Linked DNA regions of Homo sapiens: region 2 is linked to region 1. The links come from fine-mapping of genetic effects on gene expression. A gene starts in region 1. The other region holds a variant in brackets. All regions are shown on one strand. Distances are between the middles of the regions.

Region 1 (3,000 bases):
GCTCAGCTTGGTCCAGGGTGTCCACTGGGGGACGGGGAGGGAGATGGAGCACCAGGGAAGAAGCGTCTCTTCATGTGGTCAGCGCCCCCTCCTTCTCCCCACTCCCTCCTTTTGCCTCCCTTCCTGCTGCTGCCTGCACGGTGAGAACAGAGATGAGATGGCCCCTGCCCGGGAGCAGTCAGCGGCACCACAACCCTCCCAGGCCAACCCAGCTCCTGACAGAGAGGGAGGGAGGCAGCCTGGGGCTGGGGGCCCTGGCAGCAGTGGCACACGGAGTGTGCACATGGATCCTAGTCAGCCTTTTGCAGGGCGCTGAAGCCAGTGGGGGCCCCCAGGGAGGTTTTGGGGGAGTGTTGAGGGGGCCTGAAGGGTTCCGCTCCTCCCACCCAGGGAACCGCCATGCCACTAGTGGGCTGTCCTGGAGACTCGGGGAGAAAGCACACAGGCTGTCGGGAAAGGTGGGTCGCAGGCGGGCAGGGCAGCCCTGCTGTACTGATGGGCAGGCGCTGGGTGGGTGGAAGGCAAAGCCATCAGGTCATCCCCCTCTCTGTCCCTGCATTGGGCCAACCAGGTGTGTCAGGAGGATATTTGACCATTCCTGAGAGGCACATTCTCTCTCTCTCTCTCTCTCTCCCTCTCTCTCTCTCCCTCTCTCTCTCCCTCTCTCCCTCTCTCTCCCTCTCTCTCCCTCTCTCTCCCTCTCCCTCTCTCTCTCCCTCTCCCTCTCTCCCCCCTCCCTCTCCCTCCCTCTCCCCCTCTCCCTCTCCCTCTCTCCCCCTCCCTCTCTCTCCCTCTCTCTCCCTCTCTCTCCCCCTCTCTCTCCCTCCTCTCTCTGTCACACACATTTGCACATCCTGCAGTGTGAATGGAGTATGAATGTGTGTGGTAGGCGACAGCTGTGTGTGTACGTCCGGGTGCGTGTGTGCGTGTGTACATGTGAGCGTGTGTGCACGTGAGTTAGAGCCTGAGTGTCCCCTGCGTGGGTTAGTGTGTGCGCCCGCCCGGTGCCCTCCGTCTTGGGAGTCTGGGCTGCTGCTCCGCGGGCTCTGGAGCCGGCGCTCCCCACGAGCCCGGACTCTCCGCCGCGCCCGGGAGCTGCGCAATCGGCTGCTAAGACGCCGGCGCCACCGGCTGGGCCCTGTTCTCCCCTCTCTTTTCTACAGTCTTACCCGCAGCTGACAGGGTTCGAAAGAGCATGAAACGGAGGAGACGTTACAGCAACGTGTCAGCTGAAATGATGGGCGTAGACGCACGTCAGCGGCGGAAATGGTTTCTATCAAAATGAAAGTGTTTAGAGATTTTCCTCAAGTTTCAAATGAGGCGAATCCCGTTTTCCGCGATGCTGCAGCGCGCGGGTTTTAACCGCAGGGTCACGCGGAACGCCGCGCCGCGCGACTGTGCCTCGGTCTCTGCGCCCGGCTCTCCCTCCGGTCCGCAAGAGGAGGAAGGCCCGCGGCGTGCCGAGGTCAGCGGCGCGGAGCCACCAGGCGAGACGGTCACGGACGCCTGAACCGAGGTCACCGAGGCCACGGGGCCGGGAGGCCCTCAGCAGAGCCCGGGGGCTCCGCACCTCAAGGCCGGCCAGGAAGAAACAGCAGCAGGAGCCCAGGGCGCCCCGGGGAGCCCCCGACACGCGGGCCGAGCGCCCAGAGCGGCCCAGGCCCTCGCGAGGAGACCGGCCTCCCCAGGGCGGGGCTTCCGACTCGGGCGCCCGTGAGCCCCGGAGGCGGCGCGAAGGGGCAGAGTCCGCGTTTCTAACCAGCCCCCGGGTGGGCGGTGGCCCGCGCGGCACGGTGGGCGCGAGCGCCGTGGGCTGGGGCCGGCCTGGGCTTTCAGGGCGAGGGCTTTCCGCGCCGGCCCCAGCCCACCCGGCCCCGCTGCGCGCCCCTCACGCTGCAGCCTGGGAACCTGGGCCGGGAGCTGCGGGCCGCTCCGGGGAAGCGGGCCTGACCTCCCCTCCCCACCGCCGCCCCTGCGGTGAGATCCTGCCTGCCGGGGCGCAGGGGCCCGCGGTTGGGCTCCGGGAGACGGAAGAGGCCCCACAGCTCGGGCCCCACGCAGTGGACGCTGCCACTTAATTTTGGCGTAATTGATGTCAAGGCGGGTGCCCGGGCCCCCAGTGAAATGCCTCATGAACTCGCTGCGAGGAACGGCGCTCCACGCGGTGCACGGTGGCCAATCAGAGCTGCCGCTTCTGATGGAGGCTGAGCCGGCTGGGGAGGCGTCTTGGCCAAGAACCAGCCCCAGCCTCGCTCAGGGCCCCAACCCGCAGACCATGTAATTAAGCTGCGTTCTGCAGCCAGGGCAAGGTGCGGAGGGGCCTGTTTCTAGCATTGGGGAGGAGGAAGTGGGGAGGAGGGAGCGGGGAGGAAGGAGTGGGGAGGAGGGAGCGGGGAGGAAGGAGGAGTGGGGAGGAGGGAGCGGGGAGGAGGGAGCGGGGAGGAAGGAGTGGGGAGGAGGGAGCGGGGAGGAAGGAGGAGTGGGGAGGAGGGAGCGGGGAGGAAGGAGGAAGGAGCGGGGAGCAGAGGAGCAGAGCGGGAGGGAGGATCGTCGTGCAGGGGGCCTTTGTGGATGAGGCTGGGATGTCCCTGCCCCTCCGTTCCCTCCAGAGTCTCAGCTCTGAACATCTTCCCGCACCTCTGAGGAGCCAGGCCTGGAAACCCTCTAAAATAGATTTTTCTGCCTCAAGACAGAAGATGGGCGTTCCAGGCAGAGAAGAGCTGCCCAGTCACGTGCTCTGCTCCACCTGGTCAGAGACCCTTGACCTTTAGAAGACTGGACCTGAGGGCGTGGCTGGTGGACCTGAGGGCGTGGATGGTGGACCTGGCCACCCAGCTGTAGCTTTTTGGGTTCCTGTGGTCCCATTTCTTGGGTCAATCTCACACCTGGCAGCTCCCAGGAAGACACCCCCAGGCCCCTCACACTCCTGGGGGCAGCTGGAATTGGCTTCAGGGCGGGACCAGGGGCCCCATGGGTGTTTGGAATCCCTGATCTGGGTCA
Region 2 (2,677 bases), 630 kb before region 1:
AGCTGGTGGCCCCTGGCATCCCCACTGGGATCCCCTGCCCTGCCCTGAGCGCTCTCAAAGAAGACCTGAGCCGGCCTGACCTGACCCACCGGGGCGGGCACCCAGGCTGTTTTTGGGACACTCCCTACCCCCTACCCCAGGGGCTCTGGTGTCACCTGGGTGGATTGCAAGAGGTCCCCTCGGGGGAGCACTGCGCCCAGGCGCCCCTCTGCCCAGCCCGAACTCACCAGGCGCTTCTGAGGCCGAACGAGCGGCCGGTTGACGCCATTCATCTTGTGGTAGAGGCCGCAGGCATTGCACAGGTAGTGGCCGGTGCCGTCTCGGCGCCACAGCGGTGTGGACAGGGCCCCGCAGTTGACACACTCACGACCCTCACCCGGGAACTCCTCCAAGAAGTCGGACACTGAGGGGACAGGCAGCTGGTGGGCCCGGGCCCTCCCCTCCCCAGGATCCTCCCCAGCTCATGGGCCGGCACCCTCCCCTCCCCAGGAGCCTGGCGGCTTTCGTCAGACGAATAAACTTAAGGCACAAATCTTGTGCCTTAGATGTATTTTATTTTAAAATTTATTTGCTTACTTCATCTTATTTTTAAATTTTTAATTCACATACGATAAAATTCGCTAGGGTTGGTTTTTCGAGGATGGGGTGTTAATAAACAGAACCTGAAGACAGACACCTGGGACTCCCGGCTCCGGGACCGGGGGCCAGCACTGGCCTCTGCCTGTTTGACCTGCTGGGAAAGCAGGGTGTCTACACTGGCGGGGGAGGTGGATGAAGTGGTGTCTACACTGGCAGGGGAGGGATGAAGGGGCTTTATCTGGCAGACACTCTTGGGCGCCCCTGGGCTCTCCTGGGAACGCTAACCCCGCTGTCCTCCTGTTCTGCAAAGCGGGTCCATGACAGGGGTGGGGGGTTGGGAGGGTGGAGGAGGTGCCTTCTGTCAGCTTGGCTGTGGTCGCAACCAGTGTCCTTCCTTTAGAAGGCCAGCCCCGCCTCACAGCCCCCTGGGGCCGGGCTTCGCACACTGTGCGGCTGGGGGTGGAGGTCTTCCTGGTCCCCTCCAGGCCCGGCCCGGCGCCGGCGCGAGGGAGGCCCGGGCGCCGAGTGGGGGTGGGGCAGGGATCAATCATCGCCCCGCCGGGGGTGGGCGCCAGCAGCCGGGCTGTCCAGGGAGGCGGGGGCCAGGGGTCCTGCGGATGCCGCTGCGCCCGCTTCCTGCGCCAAAGGGCCGGCGGGGTCCCAAAGGCAGCTCCGGAGCTGGGTGTCGAGGCCTCCAAGGTCCCGGAGGGACGGGATGGGCCCCTGCGGAGCTCAGAGGAGCCGCCTTCGCCAGAAAGTGACTACGCTGCAACCGGGAAGAGCCGCTCCCCTCACAGGCCGAGAATCCGATTCTCCAAACTGATACTCGGGAAGCGACTGAAACCAGGTCTCAAATTAAAATCAGTAAAC[G/A]TCCTAGAACCGAGACGAATGTGGCCACTTAAATAAACCGATGTTTTGGGCTTTATAAAAATCGTTTCCAAAACTTTTCAAAAACAAAAACAAAAACGATTAAGACTTTTGAGGCTCCACATTGGCACAATCCGGAATGCTGTTTGGAAATAGATGTTCCTTCTCATTAACAGGTTAAAACAGAATTCTGGATGGGTGTTTCCCGTGCGGGGTGTTACCCAGGTTTACTCGTCTCGCCCCGGGGCTGCTGGTGTCGCTCCTGGCAGGGAGGCTCGGACCGTGGGGGAGGATGAGGGGAGCGTTTCGCAGGGTGCGGGTTTGCACCCGGATTCGGCCGCTCCTGGGCCCCGAGACTGTGGAGCCCCCGCACTCACCGAAGGTGGGCCTGCGGCCTGGGAGGCCGTGCAGGACGCTGCCATCGAAGGGCCCGGCAGTCCAGGACTGGGCCACGTCGGGGCTCACGTAGGCCGGGTAGGTGGCGGAGTACGAGGTCCCCACCGGCCGCCCAAGCGGGGCCGCGAACTGTTCTCGAGGCAACAGCGCGCCCTGGTAGGCACTGCCGTCTCGGCCCCCCGCGCTGCCGCCGCTGCCGGGCCCCGAGGGGCTGTGCGCGAAAGGGAAGGCGGTGGCCCCGGGCGGGTGCGCGGCTGGGGGGTGCGGACTGCCCGGGCCGAAGGCCGACGAATCCGCGGTGGCTGTCTGCGCCCAGCCGGGGCGCGCAGCGAGCTCGGGGGGCTGCGGGCTCGGCTCACACCCGGACAGGTAGGACAGCATCGAGGGGACGCGCGCCGGCGGCACAAACATCGGAGAGCCGGCGCCCGGAGCGTGCAGGAAGGAGCCCGAGTCGGCGTAGGCGGCCTGGCGGGGGCTCGCGGCCAGCGCCAGGCTCTGGTACATCCTCCCAGGCGTGGTCTTGACCTGCAGGGAAGAGGGACAGGTGTGGAGGTCACGGGAGCTCTGCGCCCTCCGCCAGCGCCCGAGCTTATGCCGGGCAGGTGCCGCCGCTTCGGGCAGCGCTTCCCAGTCCCCAGCCCGGGACGTTCGCGGGGCGGGTCCCCGAACCCGAGGGAGAGGAACCGCGGGGATGGGAGAGGCCAGCGCGTCATCCCCGGGGCAGTCACAACGCCGAGCCCACCTCCTCCCCGACCGGGCTTCGGAGGTCCCCGGGGTGAGCTCGGTGGGGGCCTGGGAAGGACGGGCCTGGCGCGGCCGCAGGACGCAGGGCCTG

Evidence for each region.
Region 2: its variant is fine-mapped to the expression of HAR1B in anterior cingulate cortex (GTEx, PIP 0.97).

Annotation. Positions count from the first base shown.
Region 1 is chr20:63,100,946-63,103,945 of GRCh38, forward strand. HAR1B (highly accelerated region 1B) reads right to left here and starts at 1,374. Exons shown (of 3, transcript NR_152601.1): 1 at 1,170-1,374. HAR1A (highly accelerated region 1A) reads left to right here and starts at 347. Exons shown (of 2, transcript NR_003244.2): 1 at 347-2,309; 2 at 2,610-3,000. RefSeq lists a silencer at 1,423-1,812.
Region 2 is chr20:62,473,176-62,475,852 of GRCh38, forward strand. It overlaps GATA5 (GATA binding protein 5), which reads right to left. Exons shown (of 7, transcript NM_080473.5): 2 at 1,824-2,367; 3 at 228-403. The coding sequence starts at 2,346. Among named protein-coding and RNA genes, the nearest start is that of GATA5, 1.5 kb to the right of the region's middle. RefSeq lists an enhancer at 428-1,088. The variant G/A (reference allele first, on the strand shown) is at 1,450.